Regions from separate parts of the Homo sapiens genome. Here region 1 is linked to region 2. Evidence: fine-mapped QTL for protein levels in blood plasma. A gene starts in region 2. The other region holds a variant in brackets. All regions are shown on one strand. Distances are between the middles of the regions.

Region 1 (8,000 bases), 1.3 Mb before region 2:
TCTGCAGGCCTGTGGTTGATTTTTTTTTTTTTTTCAATTTTCTGCATTTCACTGTCAAATTCCTTGAAAGAATAGTCTCTATTCATAACTTTCTCACTCCCCATTTACATGTCCATCCACTGCAGTCTTGGATTTGGCCCCACCAATTAACTGATTTTACTCCTGTCAAGGCCATCGATGATCTATGAGCAAATCCAACAAAAGCTTTGGAATCCTTCCCTTGTTTGACCTCTGGAGACTCAGCACTACTGATAACCCTGCCTTCCTGTGACTCCCATGCTGCAGCCCCATAGATGACACTGAGCAAGTGCTCAATAAATATTTGTTGAATCAATGATGAAATGAATGCAATTTCATGTCGCCAAAAGACATTAATGTGAAACATTAATGTGAAACAAACATGAAGGTGAAAATAGGCATTTTGCCCTGTTTTATTTCAACAAAAAAAGTGTAACAATCAGAATCTGCTGATAAGAATATTGCTTATCTCGTGAATTTTTCCGCACCTTTTCATTCTTGTCATTCTTGAATACCAACACAAGGCCCATGTCATCTATGAAGCACCTGACATTCCTCCATCCTATCAAACTTAGTTCTACTTATAATTCTATTTAGTATGTGAAATAAATCCTATTTATATTTATATTTACTATGCTCCAAATGGTTCCCAATACAATAGTTGTTTATTGTTTATCACTACACTAAGTTGGAAATACCCAAGACATGGAAACCCGTATTTCTCATCGTATTGCTCTTAGATAATGCCTGGCAGGTATATTTGCTCCACAGCTGTTGGATTAAACTTTAAGGAATAATCCCTTAAATATACAAGGTTCTAAAATATATCTGTAAATCACTTAAGCATATTAGTTCCATTATTCTATATGCTTAAATATTTGAAAGTGAGTCATTTTTTTTCCTATTTAATAGATTAAATGCTTTATGGAAATTTTCAAAGCTGTGAAGTGGGTAGCTGTAAACTTTCTTTTTAGTAACATTTTAAAAGTTTTTAAAGTAAAACTTTGATCTGATATCGTATTTAATTACATTGCTAGGTTAAATACAGCAATTTAAGTGAATAACATTATACGTGTTTTGTGCGAATTACATTTTAAATAATCTTCCTTTTTGAGCATTTTCTTATTTTTCTGACTTCGCTGTTTAAAATGCATTATACTTTATATTGCTTTACTTTCTTTAGGAACTAAACAATACTAAAAATAGAGACAAAGATTCTTAAAACTGACACTTTTAAGGACTCTATTTAGTGACTAGTTGGGGGCAGCAGCCACTCTTACAGATTGGCCTGGTCTTAAAAGATTAAGACATGCCTGTAAAGCTTACTGTAAAAATATTTTATTGTCTTTTATGTCACTCTTTCTCTCATCTTTTTTTTCTATGACATTTACAAAAGGTAAATTTCAATTTTAAAAAAGTTGAAATGTTACATGTTACTTTCTGTGTCTCCCATACATGCTAATTTAGATTGTAATTGACTCCTGTAAAGTAATAAAAAGGAAATCTCCACACCAGAGTATCACACACATAACGTTGAAATTACATGCATTCCCTAGGCAATATCATTGTGTTTCAGTGAGTGCATTAAAGGGGAAAAAAAAGGTCTGGAGCTTGGGAGCTCCTGGCACATTCCACAAGCAAGGTGATAGTGGGAGGGTAAGGTGCATGTAGGACTCTTGAAGCAGAGGTTGGGGGTAGCAGTCAAAATAGTGAGGGAAAATCAAAAACATCTGAATAGCTTACATCCCTCTGCCAAACCTTAACATTGAAGTCATGGGTAGGGTTCCTCCTGGAAATGCAGTGAGGATTAGAGTAAGTCCATGGACAGTAGGATGAGTCTTTGGCTGAGGAAACAGATCACTGAAGTCTGACAATTTAGGTCCCAAAACGTGTGTTGTGTCTTGGGGAACAGTGAAGGACATCCCCCTATAACAAGTAGAGTAGACTAGTGACTAAGCCCTGGCTTTAGGAACAAAAGACACACATTCAAATGTTGGCTCTCCCACTCATTAGCTCTGAGGCCATGTCTAAATCACTGATCCTCTCTGAGTCTTGGTTTCTTTTTTAAATTTTTTCTTTTGAGACAGGGTCTCGCTTCTGTTGCCCAGGCTGGAGTGCAGTGGCATGATCTTGGCTCACTGCAGCCTCAACTTCCTGGCTTAGGTGATCCTCCCACCTCAGCTTCCAGAGTAGGGGGGAACACAGGTATGTGCTACCCCACCACCCCACCCAGTTAAATTTTTTTTTTTTTTGAGACAGAGTCTTGCTCTGTCACCAGGCTGGAGTGCAGTGGCATGATCTTGGCTCTGCAACCTCCAACTCCCTGGTTCAAGCGATTTTCCTGCCTCAGCCTCCCGAGTAGCTGGGATTACAGGTACGCACCAGCATGCCCAGCTAATTTTTGTATTTTTAGTAGAGACGGGGTTTCACCATGTTGGCCAGGATGGTCTCAATCTCCTGACCTCATGATCCACCGGCCTTGGCCTCCCAAAATGCTGGGATTACAGGTATGAGCCACCACACCCAGCCTTTTTTTGTATTTTTAGTAGAGACAGGATTTTGCCATATTGCCCAGGCTGGTCTTGAAATCCTGGGCTCAAGTGATCTGCCCACCTCGCCCCCTCAAAGTGCTAGGATTGCTGGCATGAGCCACAGCACTGGGTGCGTCTTAGTTTCTTCATAAATGATTAGATGCACAAACATTTTGATGATTAAATCACATACACGTACAGCATTTCCTAGTTAACGGCAACATAGGAGCCCAAAGTATGGCAAAAACTATACTTTTTCCTTTCCCCTTTGGAATGCGTCAGACCTACAGCATCATCACAAAAGTTTGTATTACCCGTTTGTTCTGCTCTCCACAACCCCTACAAACAGTTTACTCTCAGACCGAATACATAGATTTTTATTCTTTAGTTAAGAAAATTACCGTATTTGTCAGGAAACGGTCTCTAATTTCTCTCCTTAAAATTTCCTTATAAATGTATGAAGCCTTTTCAATAGGACAGAGACCCAAGTCATCTTAATTCGGGACGGAGCAGCACAATAAGCATGGTCTACATTGAGTATACCCTCAGTTGACTGAAAACTTCATCGACGTTACAGACCACCTTTTATCACCAAGGGAGCACGTCAGTACGTGGTTCAATGCCCGCATTGCTGCTAATCTAGTCTTCTCTTCCCTGAAACCCACTGCTCCTTGTTAATGCTTGCTCACTATGTCTGCCACCACTACTTACTAGTGACCCAAACCAGAAGACACAGAATCATCCTTGACTTCTTATCATTCACCCCATCTGCTTAGCCACTAAGACCTATATATTTCATTGTCTCATCAATTTTAGAGTCTTTCCTCCTTTTTACTGCTTTAACCCTAGTTCCATTGCTCATTATCTCTTGATAGAACATAGAAGAAGCCTTACAGCCGCTCACCGTTTCTTTCCACTCTTAGACCCCAGGTTCCTGCTGTCACAAAAACAATCTGTTCATATGGAAGATCCAATCTTGTCACTCCCTTACTTGAAAACTTCTATTAGTTTTCCTATTAAATGGTAGGAAAATAATTGAAATTCCAAATCATTGATAGAGGTCACTATCCCTCGCTTCTTGCTACCTTCCTTTGTCTCAAATTTTATGGCCCAATTATATCAAGGAGACTTTGGTTCCCTAGGGACACACTTGTGGGTTTTTGCAAATTGTTACATCTGCTTAGATTTTTCCTTCCTAATTTCTTCTCATGCGTAACACTTGTTAACTGTTCAGGCTTGACTCAGATGCTCTCTCTCTCTTCTCTCTCTCTCTCTTTTTCTCTCTCTCCCTTGTTTTAAGAGGTAAGGATCTCACTCTGTTGCCTAAGCTGGAGTTCAGGGGCCTGGATCATAGCTCATTGCAGTCTTCAACTCCCGAGCTCAAGCAATCCTCTCTCATTAACAATCCTCTCACTTCAGCTGGGAACACAGGTGCATGCCATCACATCTGGCTAATTTTTAAAAATTTTTTAGTAGAAATGAAAACCTTGCTATTTTGTCTAGGCTGGTATGGAACTCCTGGCTTTGGATAATTCTCCCACCTTGGCCTCCCACAGCTCTGAGATTACAGGCTTGAGCTACTGTTGTTGGCCAGGGTTTCTCCTTTAGAAAAAATGCTTGCAAATCCCTAGAATGGTATCATTCCTTTGTTCTTCCATAGAATTCTGTGTTGATTAAGATTCAACTACTTACCACACTGCATTAACATGGTTTCTTCATCTGTCAGGGTGTCACACAGTACCAATAATATTTTGAAGAAAAAGGGCACGTCTTAGTCTCTGCACTTCAATTAGCTCCTGCTACCTAGACTGCCAGAACTAACCAGATTTTAAATGTGTTGTCCACCTGTTTATTAAATTCTGAGGGCCATCCCAGTCCCCTCCAGTAAT[G/T]TATCTCTTTGAAATAGAAAAGCCAGATTTAGATTCTGTAACTCTCAACCAATGAACACTCCTTACCTGTGTATTTCTTTTTCTAATATATACTTTCACAGCATACTTATTGTTAATATTTTCGGGGAAGCTCTCACTGCTCTTCACAATAAATTGTAGCCTCTAAAAATCTTATTTCATGCTGGCATGTACACAGAAATCTATTATAGATATAAATATACATGTACACATATACATATAAATCTCAAGGGTTACAACATCTCTTCTTTAATAAAATAGCTCCACCTAACAAAATATTTCACGTAAATATACGGTTTATTAGAGCAGTACTTTTTGCTCCGTCTTTTATCCTGGCACCTAGACATCTATCCAGAATACAGTAGGCCTTCAATGATATCATTTGAGTGAAAGAGTGAATGAATGAATAATTGGTCTAAGTTATTCACTTTTCTTATAGAATTAAAAATGTCAAATCTGAGGTAGAGAGATTACATTTGCAAATATTGCCCATGAAATAAAATTCACTTTTTGAATGATTCATAGCTTTATAATTTATAATAAAGTAGACTTACTTTAAATCTTGACATATTTTGCCAAAATCAGCTGAAGAATCTGAAACATAGGTAATAAACTCATACTTTGAGTCTTGCCCAGGCAATCTATATGTAGAACTCAGCTGATAATTGGTACGTGATAAAAACTGGATAAATTTTCATCACCTGATTTATTTTTATATTCTCAGCTATTACTAAAACTTGATTCAATAGATATTGAAAATAACTCTTTATGTGGGTTTTATTTTGCTCCCTCTGCAATAGCTTATAAAGTGTGACAGAATGTCCCTAATGGAAATAACTAAAATCAGGTGGCTTTTTATGCATTTTTTTTTTTTTTTTTTAGAAATAAAGGTTTCTGTTTCTTCTTTCCCAGAGAGTCAGAAAAAATTCAGCATCTAATTCCAAAGTGACATAAGGTAACCATTTACTTTCATTAGTTGTCCTCACAAATAATATCTATCTAGCCTATATGTACATATATACACCAAACATGGAATCATGTAAGTAGATGTAAATCTCAACCACACAAAATATAAGCACATGCAAAGATATGAAAGCATGAGGGCAATTTTGAGAGAAAATGAGAAGAAACTGTACTGTAAGTATTGCTCCGGAATGAATAGATTTTTTTTGGTAGATTTTGTATAAAAATATGTCATTTGTTTCCTTTGAAACTAAATCTGATCAACTCACCTTCATATAACCAGTCAGCAATCCCATTAAAAATTATTTCTTCTTTTCCAGAAGATGTCAGTCGCAATGAACTGCTCTTTATATCAGGTTGATAGTAGATATTATTTTCAAAAATATAAATCTGGATCAGGAAATGTGAAACAAACAAAAAATCCAACACGTTAGGATGCCTTTTGAAACTTTAATATTACAGAATGATCACTGAATAGCCATGTTGTATTATTTACGGGCTTCAAGTTGTTTTTATTCAAGGCATATGTTTTTATTGCTTTCAATTATTAATGGCTTTTTCTGTTTTATTGTATCAATATCAAGTTGTCATTTGGAAATTCCATGGCACTTGGTATTGATGCTTTTAAATCCATATTTTCAGCAACAATATTTCAACTACTTAATAATCTCTCTCCATACCACAAAATTGTTTTGGCTTTGAGATAACATTTTGCTTACTCAAGAGACTGATAACTGTAACTATAAGCCATTTTAGTAACACCAACTGACTGTTTGAAGAGCTTCAATTTGGGGTCTTTACTTTTACAAAAATGCATTTGGTGATCAATAAAATAATCTCTAGATAATCTCTCTGATTCTATCTAGCTCAGCTCACAGATTCCCTGATGGTAGAAACGATACTAAAATTCCTTTGAATTGATAAGTGGAACACAGCTTCCAGTGCACCAGTCTTGGCAACTCTTTTGTAAATAGTACGGCAATAATAATAACCTTATAACTGAGAGTTCCAGAGAGAGTCTTAATTTGAACATAGCACAGTCTGCCAAAATAATATCAACAATAGCCCCAACAACAGGAACAATGGTGCAAACTAAACAATGTCACAATGTGCCTATGATATAGATAATTCAGGATAAAATTATTTATAATTCGCTTTACAATGTCTTCAATGCCAAATACTTGAAACTGCTGACCAATGTGGTACTATAATCTTCCAGAGAACCATGTTTCTTTGGTTAGGGGAAGCACAACATTGTCCAGGGCAAGCCAAATTGCTATTTAGATCAAACATTCTACTAAGAAGGTGAAAGATGGCATAGGGCCCCTGTATCCTAGCATGGTATAGAATTAACACACAGTAGCAAATAGAGAAAACACAAGATCTTCCAAGACAATTGTCTGAATACTTACGAGGCCCTAGGTTTTAAATCTTGGTGTGCACAGTGACAAGAGCAATTTGAACATCTAGAACATTTCATGGATATTCTATTTTAATTCTGGTGATTTAACAAGCATTTACAGGTGGGTGTATTTAATTATTAATTCCACCGCTACAACAGGATCTTTTTTATACCACAGGTGAGAATCTCAATATCAGAGTAAGAATTTAAAAATAAATAAAAACAATGAAAGGAGGGTACTGCAGGGTGGTTACAAGCGTGGACTTTATAGCCAGGCAGCCTAAATTTAAAATCCTAATGACCTTGATAACATTCTTAACCTTTCTAAATCTCGGTCCTCTACTTTATAAAATGTGAATAAGGCTCACACATACCTTACAGATCTGTGGTGAAGAGTAAATGAGATGATGAATGCAGAATAAATAGCACATTGGGGTATTACTAAAAGCAGGGTGGACTGTACACAAGATAACCTGGTTCACAATGTTAAGAGTGTTGGAGGCAACAAACTCTAAGTCAAAATGAAGCCTCTACAGCTTTAGCTGATATGTAAATTATCCCAACGTTTTGTCTGGTAGAGTACATGTTATATTAGTTAAATATGTATTAGGAGTAGGAGCAGAACAGTAGCAGCAATAGTGGTAGTATTAATAGTAGGAAGGCAAGGGACATGGAGGAGGAGAGAGCTATTAACAAATAATATTTATTGCTTCCACCTCAGTTAGAAAGTTCTCAGGTGAGACAATGAAATAGGAAATAAGCTTATTACTAAAATTATGTGGATCACACTTAGGCAAAAGTTTGAGAATTACCTCTCAGATTCCCTAACACTGGATAGAAGTTGGATTTAATGACTTTCACGACCCCTGATAACTGAGAAAAAATATGAACTTTGTTCTAGCCAACTAAAGCATAAGCTTTACACCTTTCCAATACTACATCCTCTTGCTTTTCACAAACAGTATACAACACAGGTGCACAACGTTTTCCTTATTTGGAGGAAATTCCTTTCCTGTACCTGAAACTTCTAGTGGGACTTGTGAGTCATAACAGCACAGATCATGCACACCGGGACTACTCAGCACATATTGCTCTTATTAGGAGTGGAGGTGACCTCACCCAAAGTAATATGGTTCTGAATTCTCAGCTTTCTGAAGGGAATAAAATCTAAGTCAAAAT
Region 2 (10,176 bases):
CAGGAAAAGTGTGTCAGTAACTGTCTGAGCTAAAGAATGGCCAGAACGACCAAAGCAAGTGTCAAGCAACCTGAATACTCTTGATCATCTTGTTCCATTATAACTTCTCCCAATTTCCTCTTTTCCAACTCTGACACATCATGGCCACAAACAGCCTTCACTGGCAACAATTGCTGAATTTTACCCACTATAGACTTCATCACTTCTTGAACTTCAAGTGGAGGAGAACACACACACACACACACACACACACACACACACACACACACACACAGAGCTGTTTTTCCTCCTCCTGCACACTTTTGGCCTTTACAGCTATTTTAGCAATGCATTTCACTTTTGTTCATTCCCATTGCATTCTTTTTAGCCGTAGTTTAACTGTTGAGAGAAGAAACAGTCAGCATTTACTATACTGATGGGGGAAAAGTTCTCTAGAGGTTATTACACTGAGCTTTGGGAGAAAAGTCTCTAGAGGTTTTTGAATTTCTAAAATGGAGCAATATGCAAGTTATTTATTTCCAGATCCTCAAAGTGGGTTATCATTACCTGCAGGCCAACCAGATTCCATGAGGGAGGGTTACTTAAAATTATCTGATAGTAAATTGATAGTAAATTTAAGAGTGAGGAATAAAATTAACTTTAAACAACCATGCTTGAAACTAAAATTCTAATAGTTCAAAGAGTATTTTGAGCTCCAATGTCCCACAGCTTCCCAAAACCCTCTCATCTTAGAGTTTTTCTTTAGATTGTTATTGCATTTTGTTCATAGGCTAATGCATTACCTAAATATAGATAGCCATTTTTAGTATAAATTCAAAAAGCCATAAATGTTTCATAATTGAGCACATAATTTGAACTAAGAGAGATTTTCCACTCATCCCTTTTCACTATTGCAAATTGCAAAATACTCAAGTAATTACTCCCTTAATAGTTCAGTGCTTGCGACTATATATATTTTATGAACATCACAAGCATTTTTTTGCTCCCCAGAGCAATATTGGGAATGGGGTGCACAAAAGAATTTAACTTGTACAATTAACCAAATTACCCAGAGCTTTGATTCAAGATTCCTTCATTAAGCCATTAATATAATACATTGTTAAGTGGTGGGTTGTCCAATTTTTATGATACTTTTCATTTCAACTCAATGGCTGCAGTTAGAAGGAAAAAACAGCATCTGCAAGATCAGCAAGATGATGTAAAACCTCTACACTAGAAACATTTTTTTTTCTGTTCCACAGTTTGTTTGTGGGCAGCCAATGCCAGAGCACTAATAAAGGAAGTGATTTGAAGTCTCTGAAAGTAGTAGTCATTTATGCTTACTCAATAAAGAAAAGGGAAAATAAATGCTTGATTCCTGTGACCTCAGACTCTTAAACAGAAAGCCACTGGTTTTGTTATAGCATTCTAGACATACTTAGCAGTAGGCAGCCAGTTTGTAACTCTATCCCACTTTAGGCTTCAATACATATTTCCCACTAGAGCTTATATATCCCAATGTAGAGTGTCATGTATTTACTATTTTGGCTTTGTTCAGTGATATGCTTAGATAATTGATGTATGTGGGAAACTGATACACAGAGGAAAACTATACCAAAAGCTCAACATTTTTTATTTCTAAACTTAGATACAGCACAGAAAATCTAATGCTGAAAAAGATTCTCATATCTGTTATTAGAGGTGGTGTAAATTATCTGAATATGAGTTCTGCATGATTTCAGTTAACTCCCTATGTTTATGTATGATGGGAATCTAATTATGCATCATTTAATATACCCTGGAAACCCCATTGCTTTTAAAAGTCACTGCTAATAAATAGAGGAACATGTTTAGTTTATGGTTTATCTATCACTGAAACACTCTGGCAAACGGTAGGTAAATTCATGAAGAAGAGACATTGTTGAAAATTATATTCCTTTTGTAATTACAGTCTATGCAATATTATTAAAGGCCTGAGACATAAACCAAAACATAATATAAATCATAAAAAGTCAGGCTTATCAGGAATAGTAGCAAAAGGTATGCACTTGTATGTTAATGAGAGATTGCAGTAACTAAAGATGCCCTGTCAGGATATCACGTTTTTTGTTTTAGTTTTTTTTTTTTTTTCATAAAAGAGTTTCAGACGAATCCATCACTTTCCCTCAAGATGCAAAATATCCACATAGATAATAATACAATTCAAGTAAATGGCAAAATATAGTAAACTTTGATTGGAAGTCTGGTCGTTTATAAGCCTTCTTGGAAATAAGAGCATCCCGAATAAAAACAAAGAGAATGGTATAAGCATGACTTGAAACTAAAACAGAAGAGTGAAATTGTGAGTTTGTTCTTTACCTTTAACCATGTGCTGTCAGAAAAGCCTCAAATTTTAAACAACACCTGCATTGAAGAGTGTCTCCAATCATCTCACTGGTTTTGAGTTACATGGTGATATAAATAAAGACATGTGATTTTATACTCTCTCTCTAGTCTTTCATCCTCTCTCACTATAATCACTTTAGTATAACCACCAGTTCAATGCTCACAATGAAGGATGAGCTTTTTTTAAAAAAGGATAAGAGATCCAAAATTCATATGACAATGAAATCCTGTTATCAGATTTGTAGTCAATTTGATGCTATTTATTTCTAGCAGTTTGCAAATTCTTCCCCAGTTCTATCAAGAAAATTGGCATGGACTGGAAACTCTTCTAGACACTCACAAAACTTTCTTCTGGAAATATACCTCTGATAGATTCTCAGTAAAAAAAAAAAAAGTCATGAAGATGAAAGAAGTGTTCAGTGGAAACTATTCTTTCCAGTCTACACACACATGCAGAGCCAAATGCTTTATTGTGACTCAACCTTCAATTCAAACTCAAATCAAGTAGGTATGTCCACTGTCAGTACCCCGATATATCAATGCCCATGTGTTAGGTAGATGAATGAAGACACATGTGCAGAAGCAGAGGGAAAAACCAGATCCTACCTTGATTGTTTTTGAGGGTTGACACTTGATGTGATGGGACACGCTGGCAGTTTGGTTCATGTTTCAGGACCCTGGACAGTGCACAATCCCAGGCGGAGTTCCAGAATGAACTAGAGATCAAGTCTCCTCTATTGGACTTCAGTAGGGGCTGCTGCTGTTGCTGCTGCCGCTGCTACTGCTGTTGCTTCTGCTGCTTCTGTTTCTGCTGCTTCCTCACTCCGGAGGCTGAAACGCTATCAGATTGGAGGAATCTGTATCTCACTTAGCCCTAAATAGAGCATTTACTTGGTTCATCAGTCTCAAAGCTCTTGGCAATATGCAATAGAAAGCCAAAAACGGTTTAAATTCACTTGCAGTGTACCTTTTCAGTATGGAGATGTGACAGCTCCACAGTACAGCCAATGATCCTGGCTCTCATTCCCCTTTCAAAGGGACGAAAACCAGAAAACATACAGAGATCAATTGCAGTCCTGCAGTTTAAAGGGGCACTCTCAACTCCTCTGTCTCTCCAGATTATAGTTTTTCCAGTGCAAAATATTTCTCTCTCTCTCTCTCCCTCTCCCCACCCCTAACCCAGTTTAAAAAAAAATCATAACATCCTCATTCTGTTACTAAATTTTATTCCTTCCTGGGTACTTCTTGCAATCAAAACACAAGTAAATGCTGTGGAAAAAAAAAAAAAAAGACTGTTGGCAGTTTCAGAATTTGGGGGTTTTATATCTATAGGTTGAAGGACTGATATTCCCTATGGATATTTTTAAAATTTAGCCATAACAGCCAGCCAAGAGACTGTCCTTTCTGTAAGGTGGCAGAAAGCTTAAGGTATATTTAAAAAGTTTTCAAATACAATAGTTATTGTAGTTTTTGGATATCGCACCAAAGCTAGACAATGTTTTTATTTTCAACCTTTATTTTTGACCATTGCTTTCCTTGAAGCCGTATTTTTTGAATGCCTGGGACAAACTGGTAGTTAGCTCATGCCAGTCTAACTCCCCAAATGGTCACCTCTCTGTCCCTAATGTCATTTTAGGCAAAATAAATTATAAATATTTGTAAATTAAGTTTTCCGAGTCACCAGTCCCCATTGTCACATCAACACTAACTAGAATAAATATATCCTGGTTGGAAATAAGATCCAGTAGTCTTGAGTAAATGCAGGACACTCTTTTCCAACTTTTGTTGCAAAGTGTTTGATGTTGAAAACCAACAGTATTTATTCATCAGAAATGTATCCTACTAATGAAATGCTAGGTTTATAAGATTGAACTAACGAACTACATTCAGGAGGCTTTTATGAACAGCCTAAAATATTACAGATAAACTTTAATGTGAAATGAAATAAATTAATGTTTGGTGAAATTAATTTATACATAATTATAAACACATATTTTCTCTTGTAAAACAGAAAAGGGATCTAAACATTCTGACAAAGTAGTCTGCACATGTTTGAGGATGGCTAAGTTTCAGAAGGTTATAGTTCTGAGTAGCAAAGTGGAGGTAAGGATGTGACAGAAGTAAGATCAGACTGTTTGCAGCCACAAAAGTTAATGGCAAGAGTATTGGAGAAATCAGGAGAATCATGGGAAAAGAGATGGAGCCAATAAGAACCAGGCAAAAGGCTGTGTGCAAGAATCTGGTGTAGCAATATCCAGGCATCATATTGAGCACAACCAGAGGCAGCCATAGGGCCAACAAATCTCATGATTTGAAGTTTACAATTCTAAATCACAAATGTGACTGGAATTTGTGGCTTATCTTGTATTTTGCTTGAATAGCATTGCTTTGAATAATTCATAAATCACAAAAAGAGTATATTAAAAATGTTTAAACATTTTGTATTCAACAATAATGAAAACAACACAGAAAATTTGCAGTATGCAGCTAAATCAATATTTAAAGGAAAATGTATATAATTAAGTACCTATACCAGAAATGCAGAAAAGCATAAAATTAATAATTAATAAGCTAATTATTCATATCAAAGAGTTGGAAAAAGAATGGCAAAATAAACTCAAATAAATTATAGGGGGGAAACAATAAAGAGAAGAGAAGAAAGTAATGAAGTAAAAAACATACAAAATACTCAATGAAAAAACCTATGAACATTTCATCAGGTGGTTTACAGTTTGATAATCTCTGAATAAATGAATGTTCTATACCAGTAGAATTGGCTTAATTCCTTTCTTAGATAGCACTTTGTACTAGGTATCTAAGAAACTTCCAAACTAAATTATCTGGGGAGCCCAGGGAGGGAGAGCAGTCCAAGAGTTCAGAGTATCCCATCCCCATCAAAGAACTGTACAGGATGGAAGGAGCCACTAGTACTTCAAGGAACCCTCTCCAGGCACATTGATAGAGACAGCATTTATATGCCTACCACAAAGAGGGTATGAGTTGCTGGATTTCTACAACTATAATCACATGAGACTTCACCCCTTTTCTACAATTTTTCAAAAAGGTTCTACCCCCACCTGGATGGCAGCAGGATCCAAGAAAGATATTGACACTACCATTTATAGGTAGGTGGCCAGAATCCACCTAAAATCTTTTCCCAAAGTTGCATTTTGAAAATAGAGAAAAATCACAGTAAGAGAAAAGAGTGCCTCGTATACACCATATGCTCCCTTTCCAGGCTCCACATTATATCAAACTCCAAGTTCCAAAGAAAAATCAAGTGTTCAGAGCAAAACATATGACCCAAATCTCATTTTGGATTTTGTTTTCCCTTTCTGTTATATTATCATTTCATGAATCAAGGAAATGAAAACCATAGTAATTTTTAAACATTTCTATTTAAAACATGTATAAATTGTTCATTATTTTGTAAAATCTGCTGTATCTTAATGTAGCCAATTGGAATGTACAACTAGAAGAAAATAGAGACCAAAGAAATTTAGACAAGTGCTAGAGAATTACAAATACCGCTTAATAAGGATAATTCATATACATTTCTTCTAATTGGGATATATTGGGCTCAATATGTTTAGAATGAAAACAGCTGCAAAATTGCATCACGGTTTGTCACATGGAAGTAGTTTTTTTTAAGGTTTAGATCTGCTGAAGAAACACTATACAGTAAATCATACTGAACTAGAAAATTTAGACAATTTAGTCCAAAGGACCAATTTCAAATGTAATCAACACTTATGATAACCGTATAAAAATATGTTGTTGTCAAACAGTTTGGGAAAAGTTAGGAGTGAGTCCCTTCCACCTTTCCCACAAAAAAAATTAAGATGGCTAACGCTTTCAGAAAATATAACCCACGATGTTCCTTGACCAGCTATCATTTGATCCGGGAAATAGAAATTTAGGATGGGGTTAATGAAAATATCCCATTAGAAAAAAAAAAAAGTCAAAGTGTCAGATGGATTCTACTACCAATTTCCGTCTCTTTGTTTCAAGTCCCATCTGCCCAAGCCCTAACTAGCTGGTCACAGTGATGACCTACAGATTGCAAAGTTAGGCAAGCCCAGGCCTCTAGTCAATAAGAATGGTATCTGAAAGGATATTGGGCTGTTTCCCTGATTTTTTTGAAATCTACTGTAGAAAATTCAAATCCCTCCATGACCATTGAGGGATCATCTCCTCATCTTAACACCTATCATCTGTGTTCTGGTCTTCTCATGACCCATCCACTGAGTCATTTGCATTTCCTACTAGAACTGGAATATGGTTTCTAATGGTTGGCTTTTTTGACTTGACCCTCACCTAACTCCTGCCTGCCACATCTTTCTTCATGATTGACCCCTGCTTGTAACACCTTCTATGCTTCAGATTGTTCCCGGGATTCACTCAAGTGGAAGTCTCTGGTCTAATTGTGGCTTCATGGTCTTCAAGAATTGATCTTTTCTGGAAACCACTTGCAGAGTCAGGATAGGCAAAGTTATGGTTCAATAACAAATAACCTCCAAGGTCGGGTGCAGTGGCCTACACTGATAATCCCAGCATTTTGAGAGGCTGAGACAAGTGGGTCACTTGAGGCCAGGAGTCTGAGAACAGCCTGGGCAACATGGCAAACCCCATCTCTACAAAAAAATACAAAAATTAGCCTGGCATGGTGGTGCACACCTGTAATCCCAGCTATTCGGGAGGCTGAGGCATGAGAGTTGCTTGAACCCCAGAGGCGGAGGTTGCAGTGAGCTGAGATTGTGCCACTGCACTACAGCCTGAATGACAGAGGGAGACTCTATCTCAAAAAATAAAAATAAATAAATAAATACATTTATAAGTAATCTCTAAATCCCAGTGGTTTAAAATAATGAAGGTTTCTTTCTCATTATACAGCATGCCAATACCTGGTTGGCACGGGAGGAAGAGCACGTGAGGCTCTTTCAATCTTAGGGATCCAGGCTGATAAAGGCCCCATCTTAATACAAGCTTTCACAATCAACAAGGCAGAAGGAAAGAAACATGAAAAATCATGCTCTTATTTAAAGGCTTATGCCCAGCAAAGACACAAAACACTTCTACTTACATTCCATTGGCTAAAGCCACTCTCATGGCTACATTCAAGTTTAGGTAACAAGAAAGTGACGTGCAGCATGCACCCAAGTAGCAGTAAAATCAGAATAGCATTCTGAGTAACCCTAATGATAGCCATAACCCTACTGCTGCTTATTTTTCATATGCAGAGATATATGCCTATCTCTGCCATCCAACCTTAAGATGCCAACATGCTTATATTTAATGGTCCATAGACTGTGACAAGTTAATTTCAAAGCTACTTCAGGTAAATATAAGACAGAACTTCTTTATCCTATGTGTCTTGTTATCAACAGGGCTTTCCTAATATCTTTTCCTGAGTTATTCAGGAGTAGGATACAGACCCATAATAACACTTGCATATGGGGAAATACCAGAGTTGAATGTGAGCTATGAGGATTTCCCCTGCTGGGCACATATAGCTCTGCAAAGGCCAGAGCCATTGGTAGGAGGCAGAGCAGGCAGGCCTGACTACATAAGAGTGCATACTTTTAACTATTCTGCTATACGAATAAAAAAAGTTATTTTATCCTACTAACCGTTGTAACTGTACTAATACAACAAAAAGTAAAACTCACATTTTCTTATTCTTTCAGTAGTAATCACTTGAAGGACTTTCTGAAAAAAAAGCAAATATAGTATTATGAATTCTCAAGTAGCAATAAAATGTAAGTTTAATGAGAAAAAGAACACAAATTTCTAAACTCGCTTTTACATTAGATGATCAACTACTGTGTGATTCACTGTCTGAAAGCCACCTCTCCAGACTTATGTCCCATAATATTCCAACCAAACACACAAACACATAGAAAGTGGGAAGTGCTCGCTCTACATTTTCAATTTATCGTCCAAATTAATTAATGAAGTAGTTTATTGTACTCTTTCTCTCATGAGGTATTGCCTAAAACCACATAGAACGTGAGAGCAGGGATTAGAATCAACAAATAAGTGAAGTTATTGACTAGCCTATGCCAGTCCAGCTTTAGAGCTGGCTGCCATTCCCGTATCCAATAAGAACTGACCTACACTCATTGACAAGTGTGAATTGCCCCTCTTTGCATCTCCCGTTACTGGATTTGGCTTCCTGATTTTTCCACTATTCATCTCTTGATCATCACCACAAACTTTTCAAACTGTCCTCTTAGCTGATCCTTGACTATAATTTGCTCTTATCCTGGAGGCTGCCTGCTTCCAAGTACACTGGATATATAGTCTGTATGATGCAGACCAACCTCAGGGTGACCGACTGTCACAGATCCAGTTGACTGACATTCCTGACAGGTTCCACTCCCTGCTGCTTGCTAACCAGAACCAAACACAAACATCTCAAAAATTATCAGTTGCCCCAAGTGGAGTTCCACATCCATAAAAAAGCAAAACATTATCTCTGCTACTGTCATTGTCTTACACAGTTCTAATGGTGACATTTATGTTTTCTGGAATAATTCTCTTCTGCAAAAACTTCCAGCTGAAAATGTGATCCAAATCCTAAATTTATAAAACACTAAAATAGATAGCCATGATTTCCTCATAAGGGATTTTTGGAGCTTTCCTCACCCTCAGTTCTCCAGTTGCAAATAACTCAGCAAACAAGACCCCCAAAAGTGCCTTAGAAATGTTCAGTTCTAGATACAGATGCTTTCATGAACACACAGAAATAAACACTGGAGGTAACTCTTTATGTAAGCATAACAATCTGCTCCACAATCCCTGACAAATGCCTTCAATAAATTTTCTCTATGGCCAAAGTCATAAATCACTGTGAAGACAGAATGCACACATAAAATCCATTGCACTATAGTTCCCCAGACATCAGGGACAGACTACTTCATCTAGTTCAGCTATTAGTGACAGCAGTCCCCCAAGCCAGCCTATACTATTCTAAGGTCCCAAGATCTGCCTATTAGGAATTTTGACCATTGCTCCCTGATTGCCCATTTCTCCTGCTTTCATTTCTTCCTGTTCTGAGTGTTGTCGCAACATTTATGACCTGAAAAGGAGTTCACATGTAAGGTAGATAATTGATGAGCCCAATAAAACAATCATTATAATTTTTAGGGAGCTTTGGCAGTCATTCAGTCCTGGATTCTACTGTGCATCCCACATCTCCAAAGCAGTGGAATGCAGAACCAGTGTTTGCCAGGACTCAGTTCCCTTCCTTTCCCTGTGGTAAACAGTCTTCAACTGCAGATAGTGCCCAACTCAGAGGCTGACTGCTACCTTGGCAGCATTAAGGAGGTGCCATGGCAGGTGTGGTTTGTAACTTCAGCATTTTGTACATTATATAAGAGAACAAAGTGCTGGTTTGGAAATTTTGTTCTATCTTACAAAATTATGGTCATAAGGCAAGTCTTCTGGAATAAAAATTCAAGGAGCAGTCTTAAAGCAAATTAAATGTTTGTAGTCTTTGGAAAAGGCAAGTAAAGTACCCAAATTCAAAATATCTCTTCCAGCCTCTTCATTGCCTCATTCAAAGAAGGCTTTAAAATCAAAGCTAAAAGAATTGACTTTGACCTCCTGGAAAACAAAATAAGGTTAGGAAAGTGCTCATTTTATTCCCTTCCTGCCATCCCCAATTACTACATATTATTCAATGCCCATCTAAATGTTGCCTCTTTCCTCAGATTTTCTTCCTGATTTTTTCACATTTTATCTTTGCCTCTTTTACGGTACTAATCACATTCTGATTTTAGTAACTTAGTTCTGTATTGTTCTTACGTG

Direction of the effects. Alleles are on the strand shown, and positions count from the first base shown. The strength of an association depends on the size of the effect and on how common the allele is.
As copies of T replace G in region 1, the plasma level of the protein whose gene starts at base 3,168 in region 2 goes up (moderate association).

The links. A credible set is the group of variants that fine-mapping cannot tell apart. PIP is the chance, under the fine-mapping model, that this variant and not a neighbour inherited with it causes the effect. The UK Biobank Pharma Proteomics Project read protein levels with antibody pairs (Olink). The fine-mapping took linkage between variants from a reference panel, not from the people measured, so its PIPs are less certain.
Region 1: its variant is the best candidate, but not a certain one, in a credible set for the plasma level of the DPP10 protein (UK Biobank, PIP 0.51).

What each region holds. Positions count from the first base shown.
Region 1 is chr2:115,725,625-115,733,624 of GRCh38, reverse strand. It overlaps DPP10 (dipeptidyl peptidase like 10), which reads right to left. Exons shown (of 26, transcript NM_020868.6): 8 at 5,689-5,809. Among named protein-coding and RNA genes, the nearest start is that of DPP10-AS1, 570 kb to the right of the region's middle. The variant G/T (reference allele first, on the strand shown) is at 4,439.
Region 2 is chr2:114,435,633-114,445,808 of GRCh38, reverse strand. It overlaps DPP10 (dipeptidyl peptidase like 10), which reads right to left and starts at 3,168. Exons shown (of 26, transcript NM_020868.6): 1 at 2,971-3,168. The coding sequence starts at 3,030.